Linked DNA regions of Homo sapiens: region 2 is linked to region 1. The links come from fine-mapping of genetic effects on gene expression. Tissue or cell type: whole blood. Region 1 holds a variant in brackets; the other region holds the start of a gene. All regions are shown on one strand. Distances are from middle to middle.

Region 1 (8,095 bases):
CAAGCAATTCTCCTGTCTCAGCCTCCCAAGTAGCTGGGATTACAGGTGTGTGCCAACATGCCCAGCTAAGTTTTTGTATTTTTAGTAGAGATGGGGTTTCACTATGTTGGCCAGCCTGGGCTTGAACTCCCGACCTCAGGTGATTCGCCTGCCTCAGCCTCCGAAACTGTTGGGATTACAAGTGTGAACCATTGCGCCTGGCTCAAACTTTTTCTAAAAAAAAAAAATATTTTTAAAGATTTGAGACCTTGCTCTGTCTCGCAGGCTGGAATGTAGTGGTGTGATTATGTCTCACTGTAGCCTCAGACTCCTGAGCTCAATCGATCCTCCCACCTCAGCCTCCCGAGTAGCTAGGACCACAGGCATGCACCACCATGCCCAGCTATTTTTTTTTTAAGACAGAATCTTACTCTGTCCCCAGGGTGGAGTGCAGTGGCATGATCTCAGCTCACTGCAATCTCTGCCTCCCAGATTCAAGCAATCCTCCTGCCTCAGCCTCCTCGGTAACTGGGATTACAGGCATGAAGGGGACCAGCCCCTCCACACCTATGGGTATTTCTCGTCAGGTGGGACGAGAGACTGAGAAAAGAAATAAGACACAGAGACAAAGTATAGAGAGAGAACAGTGGGCCCAGGGGACCGGCGCTCAGCATACGGAGGACCTGTACTGGCGCCAGCCTCTGAGTTCCCTCAGTATTTATTGATCATTATTTTTACTATCTTAGCGAGGGGAGTGTAGCAGGGCAACAGGTGAGGAGAAGGTCAGCAGGGAAACATGTGAGCAAAGGAATCTGTATCATGAGTAAGTTCAAGGAAAGGTACTGTGCCTGGATGTGCAGTAGGCTAGATTTATGTTTCTCTTTACCCAAACATCTCAGTGTAGCAAAGGGCAACAGAGCAGTATTGCTGCCAGCATATCTCGCCTCCAGCCACAGGGAGGTTTTGTCCTAGCTCAGAATAGAACGAATGGGAATGGTCAGCTTTACATCGAGACATTCCATTCCCAGGGACGAGCAGGAGACAGAAGCCTTCCTCTTATCTCAACTGCAAAGAGGCCTCCCTCTCTCACTACTCCTCCTCAGCACAGACCCTTTACAGGTGTCAGGCTGAGGGACAGTCAGGTCTTTCCCTTCCCATGAGGCCATATCCCAGGCTGTCTCAGTCGGGGGAAACCCTGGACAATACCCAGGCTTTCTTGGGCAGACGTCCCTGCGGCTTTCTGCAGTGCATTGTGCCCCTGGTTAATAGAGAATGGAGAATGGCGATGACTTTTACCAAGCATACTGCCTGCAAACATATTGTTAACAAGGCACATCCTGCACAGCCCTAAATCCATTAAACTTTGATTCCTTACAGCACATGTTTCTGTGAGCACAGGGTTGTGGCTAAAGTTACAGGTTAACAGCATCTCAAAGCAGAAACAATTTTTTCTTAGTACAGATCAAAATGGAGTTTCTTATATCTTGCTTTTCTACATAGACACAGTAACAGTCTGATCTCTCTTTTTCTTTTCCCCACACAGGCACCTGCCACCAGGCCTGGCTAATTTTTGTATTTTTTGTAGAGACGGGGTTTTGTCATGTTGGCCAGGCTGGTCCCGAAATCCCGACCGCAGGTGATTTGCCTCAGCCTCCCAAAGTGCTGGGATTACAGGAGTGAGCCACCACTGTGCCTGGCCATGCCCAGCTATTTTTAATTAGAAAAGGTTTTTGTTTTTGTTTTGTTTTGTTTTGTAAACAAGGGATCTCACTATGTTGCCCAGGCTGGTCTGGAACTCCCAGGCCAAAGTGTTGGGATTACAGGCATGCACCACTGCACCCAGCCACTGCTTTTTTTTTTTTTTTTTTTTTGAGATGAAGTCTCGCTCTTGTCCCCCAGGCTGGAGTGCAATGATGTGATCTCAGCTCACTGCAACCTCCACTTCCCGGGTTCAAGCGATTCTCCTGCCTCAGCCTCCCGAATAGCTGGGATTACAGGTGCCTGCCACCACGCCCGGCTAATTTTTGTATTTTTTTTTTTAGTAGAGATGGGGTTTCACCATGTTGGCCAGGATGGTCTCCAACTCCTGACCTCAGGTGATCCACCCACCTCAGCCTCCCAAGGTGCTGGGATTACAGGCATGAGCCACTGTGCCCAGTGTCAAACATTTTTTAAAACCAGTGGCTGGGTGGCTGGGCGCAGTGGCTCATGCCTGTAATCCCAGCACTTTGGGAGGCCGAAGCAGGTGGATCATCTCAGGTTAGTAGTTTGAGACCAGCTTGGCCAACATAGTGGAACCCCGTCTCTACTAAAAATGTAAAAAATTATCTGGACATTTGTAGTTTCAGCTACTCAGGAGCCTGAGGTGGGAGAATCGCTTGAGCCCAGGAGGCGGAGGTTGCAGTGAGCTGAGATCTTGCCACCGCACTCCAGCCTGGGCAACAGAGTGAGACTCTATCTCAAAGCTAACTAACAAACAGACAGTGGACTGTCATTAAAATGAAACCTGTGCAAATCTTGGGTGAAAGATGAAAACGGTGGGGTGGGGGCCCTCCTCTGCCACCTCCTCCAAATACTGGAACTTGGAATCTGGAACCCACCAATGTGGCCCCTGCACCCCGCAGGTGGAGAAACCCGGATGCCAGGCCAGGCCTGACGGGCGGTGATACATTAAGAGCCTCATTCACTGGGGAGCTTGAGCACTTTGGGTTCCATGGGGTTGGCTCCGGCCTGGCGGTGGGGATCCCTGGGCCTGCTGAGGGGTGCAGGAGCCCGGGTTGGTGCAAGGAGCTGGGCTCCAGTCACATACAGAACAAGCCACTTTATTTCCTTCCCCTGCTACGCCCTCCTTCTGCCCGTCATATCCCACATTCAAGCTACCAGAAATCTCAGTTTCTCTGCCCTCAAACCCCAAATCTGGCCCCTCTACACCTTCCACACTGGGTACCACCCTGGCCAGCTGCCATCATCTCCCACCTGAACTATTGCAATTGCCTTCACGCCGGGACTCCTGAGCCCCAACCTCTTCCGTCTGTTCCCCATATGGCCTCCAGAGGGCGCCTGTTTCCATCATGGCAGCTCGTGGCCCTCCGCAGCTCAGAACCCAGAGAAAAATCCAAGGTGCTCCCCATAGCCTCTGTAGGATGCGCCTTACTTCACCGACCTCACCTCTTCCCACTCTCCTCCTCCCTCTCTTACTCCAGCCTCTGCCATTCCTTGAACATGCCAGGCCTGCTGGTGCCTCAGGGCCTTTGCACAGGCTGTTCCTCTCTTGGCTGCTCTGCCCCCCAGATTTCCATTTGGCTCTTCCCACACCTCCCTCTCGACTTGGCTGCAATGTCACCTCAGTGAGCCTTCTCTGACCGCTTTATTTAATTCTACCACCCCTGCTTCCTGCCCCCACCCTCACCCACCCAACCCATACCCTATTCTACCCTTTTCTCTTTTTTTTTTTTTTTCTGAGACGGAGTCTCGCTCTGTCGCCCAGGCTGGAGTGCAGTGGCACGATCTCGGCTCATTGCAAGCTCCGCCTCCCGGGTTCACGCCATTCTCCTGCCTCAGCCTCCCGAGTAGCTGGGACTACAGGCGCCCGCCACCACA[C/T]CCGGCTTTTTTTTTTTTTTTTTTTGTATTTTTAGTAGAGACGGGGGTTTCACCATGTTAGCCAGGATAGTCTCGATCTCCTGACCTCGTGATCTGCCCACCTCAGGCCTCCCAAAGTTCTGGGATTACAGGCGTGAGCCACCACGCCCAGCCCTTTTCCTCTTTTTTTTTTTTTTTTTTTTTTTTTTTATTAAGAGATGGGGTCTTGGGCAGACGCAGTGGCTCATGCCTGTAATCTGTGCACTTAGGGAGGCTGAGGCAGGCAGATCACTTGATGCCAGGAGTTCAAGACCGGCCTGGCCAACATGGCGAAACCCTGTCTCTACTACAAATACAAAAATTAGCCAGGTGTCGTGGTACACGCCTGTAATCCCAGCTCTTTAGGAGACCGAGACAGGTGGATCACTCGCTGTCAGGAGTTCGAGAGATGTGGCAAAAACCTGTCTCTACTAAAAATACAAAGATTAGCTGGGTGTAGTGGCGGGCGCCTGTTATCCCAGCTACTCGGGAGGCTGAGGCATGAGAATTGTTGAACCCGGGAGGCAGAGGTTGCAGTGAGCCAAGATCGCGCCACTGCACTCCAGCCTGGGAGACAGAGATAGACCCTGTCACAAACAAACAAACAAACAAACAAACAAACAGAGATGGGGTCTTGCTCTATGGCCCAGGCTGGCCAGGCTCATACTCCTGAGCTCAAGCAATCCTCCCACCTCGGCCTCCCAAAGTACTGGGATTACAGGCATAAGCCACCACGCCAGGCCTGCTCTACTTTTTTTTTTTTTTTTTAAAGACAGGGTCTTGCTCTGTTGCCCAGGCTGGAATGCAGTTTCATGATCACAGCTCATTTCAGCTTTGACCTCCCAGGCTCAAGTGACACTCCCACCTCAGCCTCCTAAGTAGCTGGGACTATAGGCCCATGCTACCCTGCCCAGCTATTTTTTTTTCTTAATTTTTGTTTTTTGTAGCGACACAGTCTCTGTATGTTGTCCAGGCTGGTTTTGAACTCCTGGGCTGAAAGGATCCTCCCACCTACGCCTCCCAAAGTGCTGGGATTATAGTTGTGAACCACCGTGCCCTGCCCTGTTCTCCTTTTTTAATAGCAACAGTCCCCTCCCAACAGACGATAGAATTCACTGGTTTATGATGTTTATTGTTTCCTGCCTGTCCCCACTGGGAAGGTCACTCTGTGGGGGAACCATCTTTGAATTGTTCACTGCTGTAGGCTCAGAGTCTAGCATAGGGTCCGGTGCATGCGTATAGCAGGAGCTCAATAAACACTCGTGGAATGGTGGAAGAGGCTGGTTCAGTCTCGACTCTGCTGCCTGGCAACTATGTGACCTTGGATGAGCACTGCCAGGTCTCACCCGCCGGTGACAATGGCTCTCTTATGCCTCACCCAAAGGCTGCTAGTGCAGGTTACGTAAGAGCAGAAGAAAAGGCACTTTGACGGTCACTCCCTGGGTCCCAGTTCCCAGCTCCCACCTTTCTCTCCCTTTCTCCATTGCCCCACCCACCCCTCTTGCCTCTTTGAAGGAGCTTGGCCCAGGAAGGAGGGCCCAGGCTGGCCCCGGATTAGGGTTGGTCCTGGGTTCTAGGCTCAGAGTGGCAGTATGGGGACAGAAAGGCAGAGGGCAGTGACTCAGTTTTGTCTCTCTTAGAGACAGGTCAATGTTCTTAGGCCTGTTGGATTCTGCCCCCATCTGCTCTTTTTGAGGTCAACTTTATTGAGGTATAATTTACATACAATAGGCCGGGCAAGGTGGCTCACACCTGTAATCCTAGCACTTTGGGAGGTCAAGGCAAATCATTTGAGGCCAGGAGTTCAAGACCAGCCTGGCCAACATGGTGAAACTCCATCTCCACTAAAAATACAAAAATTAACCAGGTGTGGTTGTGCACACCTGTAATCCCAGCTACTCAGGTGGCTGAGGCATGAGAATCACTTGAATCCAGAAGGTAGAGGTTGCAGTGAGCCAAGACTGCACCACTGCACTCTAGCCTGGGCAACAGAGCAAGGCTGGCTCCAAAAAAATTGTTTCATATGATAAATTGCACCCGTTAAAATCAATTAGGCCAGGCTCATGCCTGTAATTCCAGCACTTTGAGAGGCCGAGGCAGAAGGATCGCTTGAGCCCAGGAGTTTGAGACCAGCCTGAGCAATGCTGCGAGACCCTGTCTCAAAATAAATAAATAAATAAATAAAATACAGTTAAATGAGTTTTGACAGATGAATATACTGTGAAAAACCACTCCCATAATCAAGATACATGATATTCTCATCATCCCCAAATTTCCTCATGCTTCTTTGCAGTCTGCCCCTCTCTCCAGCTCCAGGCCCCGGTAACCACTGATCTGCTTTTGGTCACTATGAATTAGTTTTACCTCTTCTAGAATTTTACATTGGTGGAATCATATACTATGTAGCGTCTTGCATCTGGCTTTTTTTTATGTGTCATAATGCTTTTGGGATTTATTCTTATTTTTGCATGTATCAGTAGTTTGTTCTTTCTTTTCTTTTCTTTTTTTTTTTTTGAGATGGAGTTTCACTCTTGTTGCCCAGACTGGAGTGCAATGGCACAATCTCGGCTCACTACAACCTCCGCCTCCCGAGTTCAAGTGATTCTCCTGCCTTGGCCTCCCAAGTGGCTGGGATTACAGGCATGTGCCACCATGCCCAGCTAATTTTGTATTTTTAGTAGAGACAGGGTTTTGCCATGTTGGTCAGGCTGGTCTTGAACTCCCGACCTCAGGTGATCGGCCCGCCTCGACCTCCCAAAGTGCTGGGATTACAGGCGTGAGCCACCACGTCCGGCCCAGTTCTTTCCTTTTTTAAAAAACTTGCTAAGGAGTATTATGTTGTCTGAGTGTACCACAGTTTGCTTATCCACCCACCTGTTGATTTACATCTGATGGTTTCCAGGTTGGGGCTATTGTGCATAAAGGTGCATTTGTAGACAGGTTTTTTATTTTTTATTTACCTTATTTTATTTTTGAGACAGAATCTTGCTCTGTTGCCCAGGCTGGAGTGCAGTGGTGCAATCTCGGCTCACTGCAACCTCCACCTCCCAGGTTCAAGCAATTCTCCTGCCTCAGCTTCCTGAGTAGCTGGGATTACAGGCACCCACCATCACGCCCGGCTAATTTTTGTATTTTTAGTAGGGATGGGGTTTCACCATGTTGTTCAGGCTGGTCTTGAACTCCTGACCTCAAGTAATCCGCCCTCTTCGGCCTCCCAAAGTGCTGGGATTACAGGTGTGAGCCGCCACACCTGGCTAATTTTTGTATTTTTAGTAGAGACGTGGTTTCACCATGTTGACTGGGCTGGTCTCAAACTCCTGACCTCAAGTGATCTGCCCGCCTCAGCCTCCCAAAGTGCTGGGATTACAGGCATGAGCCACTCGCCCCTCCTAAATTTTTTTGGTAGAGACAGGGTCTCAACATATTACCCTGGGTGGCCTCCACCTCCTGGGCTCATGTGATCCTCCAGCCTTGGTCTTCCAAAGCGTTGGGATTACAGGCATTAGCCACCACACCTGGCTAATGTAGACAGGTCTTTACATGCCACTATTGTTCATAGCAAATATTTTGTAACATGTAGGGCTGATAGACAAAATATTTACTGCTTGGCAAAGTCATCAGTCCATCCAACATCCGGGATATGGGTCCCTCTTATCTCCCACTATACCCAGTTTAACCCCTGGACTTCTGGGCCAGAGGGCAGCCCAGGGGATCCCCAGGGAGAGCTAGGAGGATACTAATAGTCAGGGGGTTCATGGCAGTGACCGTTTATGAATGAGTAAATAATCCATAATTTAGTGTTTTGCTGTCTTAACCACTGGCGTGGCCATACCAGGGCGTGTGCTGGCTTGAATGTCAGTTCTGGGAAAGTTCTCTCTGTTCTCCTGAAATGAAGTTCATAGACAGTATAACCCACTGGCACATGATTTAACATGATTTAAGAAAATCCTACTTTGGGAGGCCAAGGTGGGCAGATCACTCGAGTCCAGGAATTTGAGACCAGCCTGAGCAACATGGTGAAACCCCATCTCTACTTAAAATACACACACACACACACACACACACACACACACACGTATTTTTAGTAGAGATGGGGTTTCACCATGTTGGCCAGGCTGGTCTCGAACTCCTGACCTCAAGTAATCCATCCGCCTTGGCCTCCCAAACTGCTGGCATTACAGGCGTGCGACACCGCACCTAGCTAATTTTTGTATTTTTAGTAGAGACATTATATATATAAATATATTTATATATATATATATATAAAAGCTGGGTGTGGTAGTACTTATCTGTAGTCCCAGCTACTCGGGAGGCTGAGGTGGGAGAATCGCCTGAGCCTGGGAAGTTGAGGCTGCAGTGAGCCAAGACTGTGCCACTGCACTGCAGCCTGGGTGACAGAGTGAGACCCTGTCTCAGAAACAACAACAACAGCAGCAGCAACAAAAACGATCCTTGATTGCCCTAAATGTAATAAAAAGGAGAAATAAGAACATAGTAA
Region 2 (8,090 bases), 49 kb after region 1:
ATGCTGGGGGATGAGATGGACTGTGGACAGGAGGGGACCAGGGTTCTCCTTTGGGCGGGCCACAGGAGGTGATGAGCAGAGGGTGAGAGAGGAGAGTTGAGCCCCACTTCCCCTGAGGCCTTTGGACAAGGCCAGGTGAGGGGTTCCAGGGCTGCGTCTGAGCGAGGAGCCCAGTGACCACCCCTTCTGTCCCCGACACATGTGCAGGCCATGACTGCTCCCTGCGTCTCTGGAGCCTGGACAACAAAACGTGCGTGCAGGAGATCACGGCCCACCGCAAGAAGCACGAGGAGGCCATCCACGCTGTTGCCTGCCACCCCAGCAAGGCCCTCATTGCCAGTGCTGGCGCTGATGCCCTGGCCAAGGTCTTCGTATGATGCCCACCTGGCCCTGCCCTGGCCGCCACGCTGGCTGGGGTGTAGGGCCGGGCAGGTGGGGCTGAGGTGAGGGCAGAAACCCCGCATTCTGAGTCTCTGCACGCCCATGCCTAGTACTGCCAGGTGTGCTGAGCCCCGCAGTCCAGTCAGGGGCGTCCTGTGAGAATCACTGGGGGAGCCCTGGGCATGCAGGGGAGGGGTTGAGGCCTTAGAGGCGCCCTAGAGGCGGCGGCTCAGTCTCCCCTCCCTTCTCTTTCCCGCAGGGGACTCCCAGCCTCGCTGGAGGTGCAGAGGCCTGGCCTCTGTCTGTTTGCCATGGAGCCTGGTGGTGCTAACGGCCCTTTCCCCAGGAATCCCTCCCCAACGGCTGCCTTCCCCAAGCATCCAGCCTGGGGATGGGCCCCTTTCAGGAATCACCCCCGAGGATGGCCTCGGGGTTTCCCCCTGTGCCCTGACAGCCGCTCCTGGTATCAGAGCTGCTTTCCAGAGGGCAGCACAGCCAGGGCCGGGTGTCTTTAGGGATCAGTTTTTCCAAGACTCCAGAAGGTGCCAGGTTCTCCCCTTGAGCTCCTGCTCCCCCATCCCCCATCCTCCCAGACCTGGGCAGGAGCTGTGCTGGGAGAAAGGGTGGCAGCCGGGAGCCTCAGAGCTGAGCCCCGGCCTGGCTGCCCCTCCCCTCCGGCCCTCTCCACTGCTTTCCAGACACTAACCAAGGCTTCCAGGCCAGGGATTGCCCAACACTCCTAGGGCAGCCCTCCCAGCGCCCCATGGGGTCGCCCATGGGTAGAGACGGCTTTCTTGTGCCCCTCCCTGGGGCATGGAGGGTGGAGTGGGCCTCGGGTCCCCCTGAACTCCCTGTATATCTGTATAAATAACGGGATTTTCATGGCGCCGCCCCACCCGCATTATCACTGTGTGATGGTCTCAGTCAGTCTCCTCCCTGTCTCCACTCTTTCCCTCTATTTATTTCACTCTCTTGTTTGGTTCTACCCTGCACCCTCGGTCCCCTTCCAGGTTCCTGTTTATAAGCCCCAACCCCTCTGTCCCCATCTTGTATGTGAAAACTTGTCTCAATAAACCCTTTGGAGTAAGATGGGTGACGGTGCCATCTGTTGAGGGCACTGGGGACTTTGGGGGAGGAGTGACCGGCTCTGCCTGGGTTGGGTGGAGTTTGGAGAGAGGGGATATGATGGGTTGGGGTTTTGTGGTAGGGCAGCAGGGGCCGGAGACGGGCCCAGAGCTTGGGTGGGGTGTGGGTGGAGAGAAGTGGAGGCACTGGACCGAATCTCCTTGTGCCCTTTCTGTCCCTAAGTGCTCCCTCCCCAGGGGTAGAGCCCTGGGGAGCAGATACTATGATGACAGTCCAGCTGAAGCCTCAGCCCCGCCTGGGATGTGTGAGGGTGGTGGCGAGGCCAAAGGGCTGGTGCCCAGAGGACGTAAACCCCCTTCCTGTTCCCATCCCAGGCCCACAAGGAGCAGGGAGGGAAAAGGCTGCACCTGCCAGTGGAGGATGATGGCTTTGGGGCGCAGGCTCCTCCATGCTGGGAGGAGGTGCCGCAGGTGCCCGAGCCCTCGTGGCTCATGTCCTGATGCGTCCCTCCTTTCCCTTCTCAGTGGTCCACGTCTACTGTACTGAGTGCTTTACATGGCATTTCACTGGGTCCACAGCCTTAAAAAGAGGGAGCAGGTGTCCACATGCTCCAGATGAGACGGAGGGGACCGCTGCTCCTGTCTCGAGGAGGCTTCCACCACCTACCAGCCAGGCGTCCTCGGTAATCCTAGCACCTCTGCCACAGGGCACTAATGCCCAGTTCCTGGGTTGTAAAGGGCTGTGCCCCAGTCCCCCAGCAGGCCCCAGTGAACATACGAGAAAGGATGGAGGCCGCTGTCTGGACACTCAGGACATGGCAGCGTTTTGCTGGGACAGTCATCTGCCCTTCAGGAAAAAGGGTGCAGGTGGGCAGGAGGCCCTTAGATGACGCCAAGGGGAGCCTTCGTGGGCTCCACGTGGTGTGCTCCCTGCCCATCCCTCTGGGCTCAATGCAGTTCCCCAGGTGGTGGTTTGGGTTTTCACTCCAGCCTCAGACTTCCTTCCTCAGCCCCAGCCCCCGGATGTGGTGACAGAATCGATACTGTACCGACCTCAGCTACCCCCAACGGCCGTACACCAGGAAGAGGGGCTCTTCTGGCAGCCCCCATCCTCAGCCAGCCCTGCCATTTCCAGTCCTGCCAGCATCCCAGCCAGACAGGTGGCCCTTCTCTTAGAGCTCAAACCTAGGCCTTGACTTGTCAATCAAAGGGGTGGGTGGGGCAGCTTCCCTCAAGCAACTTCACTCTGGGATCTTGGGCAAGACGTTTTGCTTCTCTGAGGCTTCAGCTTATTCTGTGTAAACTAAATGGTAGCCACTATTTGATTATTAGCTGGGGAGGAGAGATCAAGCCTGACCCCTGTAGCGGCTGGAGTTTTACAGCAGGGCCCACCCAGCACCCAGTAGGTCCTCACAGATACTTGCTGGGTGACTGAATGGGTGTGCCCACCCATCAAAGCCTGAGTGCTGGAGGTGGCCACCCCTTTCCGCGTATTATCAGAGACAACCACCTCTTACTGAACTGCTGCGTTTCCAGGCACCAGTATACCATGGCATCGGCTCCCACCATCCCATGTGGGGTCAGTCCTATTACAGTCCCAACAGATGGAGGGACTGAGGCTCACAGAGAAGCCACTCACCCAAAGTCACATGGAGAGAAAGACACGCACACGTACTCCACATCCCCAGGAGACACACTCTGCATCTATGAAGTGGTATGGGTGTGCTGTCCTCCCTCGGGGCAGCCCCACACTATCCTAAGGCGGGGTTGGGGTGGGCGGGGGGATGGACCCTCCCCACCCATCCAGTTAGCGCCATGCACCTTGCCCACCATCGCTGGAGACAGACCTAAGGCGAGCCCCTTCCTACCCATCTGGAGGCCTCGGTCTTTCCATGTGTTAAATGGGCTGGGGCCGGGGGACGCTCTGCAGCACCCCCTTCCCTGGGCTGGGACGCGGCGGGGAGGGCAGGGGTGACGCTCGGAGAACAGAGAGGCCGAACCCAGAGAGCGGGCCGGGACCTGATACCGATTTCCCACCCGTCCCCTGCCATGGGCGCCGGACGCCTGCCGGAGAGGGCTCCCCTCCTTAAAGGGCCAGTGGCCTCCAAGCCCGACGCCTGCGACCGGCGGTGGGTGATAGTGTTTCCCCTCCCTGTCCAGCCGAGGGAAAAGTTAACTTTCCAGGCTTGGCTGTGTTCAGGGAAGGAACTGGTCTCGCCTGCCTGCCCTCCATCCCTCACACCATCCCTTGTCCCGGACCCTGGAGGCGGAGGTCCAGCCCCCAACTCGGAGGCCCCGGGCCCACCCTCCCCTTCCGCCCCCGGCCCCTCGGCAGGCTCCGCCCCTCTCTGACGTCGCCGAGGCCCGCGCCGATTGGTCGACTGCACTGTCGCTCCGGACACTTCCTCCTGGGCCGCCGCCGCCGCCGCCGACTTAAACTTTGGAGGGGGAAAAAGAGCTACTGGCGCCTGGCGACCCTCCCTGCCCCCCACCCAACCCCGCTCCGGCAACGCCCCCTTCCTCACGGCTCCCGACCGAACTTTTCTCCAACTTCTGCGACTCGTGAGATTCCCTTCTACCCACTCCGGCCCTCGGGACCCCTCTGCCCATCCCCTGGCCGGTCGGGTCCCTGCGAACCCCTTTATCTCTGGAATCCACTCGGTCCCCGACTCAGAGACTCCTGCCCTCCACCCCCAAGGTGAATTCCCCCGGGCCGCCTTCTGAGTGGGATCCTCTTCTTGGAGCACTGGATCCTGGGATTCCCTCTGCCCCCTTCTCAATCCCTCCTCTAGGGAAGGGGCCTTTGAATCGCGGGCTCTCCTGATCCCTGTGACCCCGACCTACTAGATTTCCTCTCAGGCTTCTTGGAATCTCAATCGCTGGGACCTCCAACCCACTACTTTTCTCCTTTCTGATCTTCTGGGAGCCCTGGATTCCGGGCCTCTGACCCACTATAGTGCCTTTCTCTCCTTCCCAGGACCCCGCCATCCTCAGGTCCCCTCCGCCTGCCAGATCTTTTCTCGGATCCCCGCTCTCCCACCACCTGCTCACGAGATCCCGCGGATCTAGAACCCAGGGTCCCCCGGGGCCCCCCGGCCGGGTCCCGGGTGGGCTCCAGGCGGCCGGTCCCCGGCCTCCCCCCATGGCCACCGCCCCCTCTTATCCCGCCGGGCTCCCTGGCTCTCCCGGGCCGGGGTCTCCTCCGCCCCCCGGCGGCCTAGAGCTGCAGTCGCCGCCACCGCTACTGCCCCAGATCCCGGCCCCGGGTTCCGGGGTCTCCTTTCACATCCAGATCGGGCTGACCCGCGAGTTCGTGCTGTTGCCCGCCGCCTCCGAGCTGGCTCATGTGAAGCAGCTGGCCTGTTCCATCGTGGACCAGAAGGTGAGGGCGCAGGCTCCCTGGATCCAGCTCGGGGAGAGGTTGAAGGAGGGGGCGCTGGCAGAGGGGTCTGGGGCCTGGTGTGCGGAAGAGGGAGGAAGGAGACCTGAGCTTTGGGTGATGGAGGGATAGGGGGCATTGCCCCCCTCCATTGCCCCTCTCCCCACCATCCCTTTGAGAGAGGACTGGGCAGGGGTGGGGTGCCCCAGAGGCCTCCCCAAATTTCATGTCCCTGCATGTCGTTGTTTTCTGCAGCAAACAGGGAGGAAGGGAGGGGCCAGCCAGGTGTAGAGAGGGGAGGAAGGGGCAGCAGATGTCGGCGGACCTCCACGTCCAGGCCCATCCCGGGCCTCCCATTTGGTGGAAACAGGAGAAATTGAACCCGGGCTGGCCATGGTGATCCGGTGACATGTGTGGGTGCAGGTGCTTGAGTTAGCTGCCAGGGGCAAGTGAGGTCTCGGAGCCCAATTCTGCCCTCCCCTAAGCCTGAGATATGTGTGGAGGGGCAGGCACTCCTACAGACCCTGGGGACTCTATTCCCTTTCCTAGTCACAGTGCTGTTAGCCTACTCTTAATTTTGGACACCAGGGTCCCCAGGGTGGGCAGCTGGGTGTTATGGCAAGAGGAAACCAGGTGGAACTCCACGTCTAAACCGTGAAATGTTAAAAGAATAGTGGGCTTCTGTGTTGGAGTACTGGACTGTAGAAATGTTAGAATATTAGAATCATAACTTGTTGGAATATGCATCCTAGGCAATTAAATTGCCCCCATGTTCGTGTTCAAATATTAGAATTCTAGGTTTGTGAAATAGTAAAACATTAAAATGCTGGAATATTAGATTCCTAGATTGTTGAATCCTAGAAAGTTAAAATGTTAGAATTTTAGAATGCTGGATGGATGAGGTCCTTGAATGCTAAAGAATTCAAAGAGCACAGTCCTAGCTTGTCAGACTCCTAGAATATTAAAATATTAGATTACCGCTTATTTAGGTTATTGAAATCCTAAAATGTATAGTGATACCAGGTAGGAATCTAGAATGTATAATTCTATAATGTGAGCATGTTGGAGTCCCAAAATATCCAAATTCCAGAATCTTTTCAGACTCCTGGAAATGAATCCTTTGGGCATCAGAGAAACGTGGGGAACTGGGCCAGCTCCCCCATTCTACAGACAAGGAAACTGAAGCTTAGAGAAAAACTTCCCAAGGGGTCAGGGCCAAGGCAGTCCTGGTCTTCTGTGGACTCTCTCTTAGCAGTGAGAACTGATAGGGTTTTGCCCACCAAATGCCTCAATCCCGCAGGCCCAGCTCACCACCCCAACTCAGCCCACTTCATGGGAAGCTGGTGGCAGTGGGGGTACGGGGGCAGATTGTCCCTTGGGTGAACTTCTTTGTCCAGTGCTCAAGTCCCCAGCCTGCCCCGCTCAGGCTTCACCCCAGTTTTATTTTTCTGCCAGGTCCAGGTGTGTTAGGGCCGCTTACCTTCCTTCCCGAGGCCCCACCGGGGCAGTTTCACTTTCTGTTCTACTAGGTTTCATTTCCTGCCCCCAGGCCCCCAAAGCTGAGGACCCAGACACCTGGGTCCTTTGAGCATTGGGTGGCAGGCGCCCTCCTTATCTCCAGCGCCCTCGAGTCCAAGTCCCCCGGCCCCCCCCCCCACTTTCCCAGGAGCCCCGAAAAGTCCTCCTTCCAGCTCGCCCCACCCCAGTGCTGGGCCTGGAGCCAGGTAACTGGGACAACAATAGACAGATCCAGGAAGGAAGCTGGGGGGCGGGTGTGTGAGCCTGGGGAGGAGGCACAGGGGAGGGAGTGTTCATTCAGCATCCCCTCCCACCTCCGCCAGGTTCCGGAAAATTCGAGGTGTCCACGCTCCCGGAGCCACTCTCCCTCCCACCCCAGCTCCCCCTTCCAGCCACCAAACCCACGCCGGCGCCCCCTCCCCGTACAATTGGGGCGCTGGCATCCTGCCCGGCTCGCGCTGGGGTTGGGAGGGGGCAGGCAGGAAGCGAGGGCCTGCGGGGTCTCTGCGTTTCCGGGGGAAACAGCCGGCCCTGCCCTGGGAGGGTCACAGTCCGCCCGCTGCTGAAGGCGGCTCTGAGCTTTTCCGTCGCCACATCCCTCTCCCGCCCCTCAGTTCCCTGAGTGTGGCTTCTACGGCCTTTACGACAAGATCCTGCTTTTCAAACATGACCCCACGTCGGCCAACCTCCTGCAGCTGGTGCGCTCGTCCGGAGACATCCAGGAGGGCGACCTGGTGGAGGTGGTGCTGTCGGGTGAGAGGTGGTGGCCGGCCTGGGGGCGGGGCCTCGGGTGGGGGCGGGGCATCTGGGGGAGGAGAGGGTAGGGGGAGTTAGAAGTCAGGAGAGGCCGGGTGTAGTGGCTCACGCCTGTGATCCCAGCACTTTGGGAGGCTGAGCTGGAGCTGGGGGGATCGCTTGAGCCCAGGAGTTCGAGATCAGCCTGGGCAACATAGTGAGATTCCATCTCTACCCCTTTCTCTCCCTCTGAAAAAAAAAAATAAGGAGAGTTGGGGGCTTCTGGAAGATGGTTACAGAGTGGGGTCATGAAGGCGCTCTTTAGGGACTGGTCTAAACTTTCATTTATGGATTAGGATGCTAGTGACACGCTTTGTACAGTTTGAAAATTCATTGAGCTGTGCACTTGTGATGTGCGGCCTTTCCTGAACATATGTTATACTTATTTATTTATAAAACTAGTCAAGTGCAGTAGTTAGAAGGGGGAAAAGAGGAGAAGAAGGAGTTGGATCTGTAACTGACTGTGTTATGCTTAAATATAAAGGTAAAAAATGGGCCAGCTGCAGTGGCTCACACCTGTAATCCCAGCAGTTTGGGAGGCTGAGGTGGGAGGATCGCTGGAGCCCAGGAGTTTGAGACCAGCCTGGGCAACATAAGGAGACCCCATCTCTTAAAAAAAAAAAAAAAAAAAAAAGTTAACCGGGCGAGGTGGCACACGTCTGTAGTCTCAGCTACTTGGGAGGCTGAGGTGGGAGGATTTCTTGAGCTTAGGAGTTTGAGGCTGCAGTGAGCCACGATCATGTCACTGCACTCCAGCCTGGGCAACAGAGAGAGACCCTATCTCTAAAAAAGAAAAAAAGTAGAAAAAGAAAAAAAAAAGTTATGATGTCCATGGCTCCTGCCACGAAAATGCTAAATTAAATCAGAATCTCTGCAAAGTGAGATGGAATCTGCACATCAGTATTTTTAAAAGCCCCCAGGTGATTTTCTAA

What was found. PIP is the estimated chance that this variant, and not a neighbour inherited with it, causes the effect.
Region 2: PRKD2 starts here. The variant in region 1 is fine-mapped to the expression of PRKD2 in whole blood (TOPMed, PIP above 0.99).

What each region holds. Positions count from the first base shown.
Region 1 is chr19:46,761,796-46,769,890 of GRCh38, reverse strand. No RefSeq gene overlaps it. Among named protein-coding and RNA genes, the nearest start is that of STRN4, 19 kb to the right of the region's middle. The variant C/T (reference allele first, on the strand shown) is at 3,580.
Region 2 is chr19:46,712,889-46,720,978 of GRCh38, reverse strand. PRKD2 (protein kinase D2) reads left to right here and starts at 3,865. Exons shown (of 18, transcript NM_016457.5): 1 at 3,865-4,848; 2 at 6,978-7,116. The coding sequence starts at 4,609. STRN4 (striatin 4) reads left to right here. Exons shown (of 18, transcript NM_013403.3): 17 at 208-443; 18 at 641-1,468. The coding sequence ends at 377. LOC107987269 reads left to right here and starts at 1,257. Exons shown (of 4, transcript XM_017027568.2): 1 at 1,257-2,333; 2 at 2,477-2,626; 3 at 3,003-3,180; 4 at 3,802-4,445. The coding sequence starts at 1,916. The coding sequence ends at 4,168. RefSeq lists enhancers at 2,570-2,619, 6,131-6,430 and silencers at 3,740-3,899, 3,920-3,969, 6,621-6,850.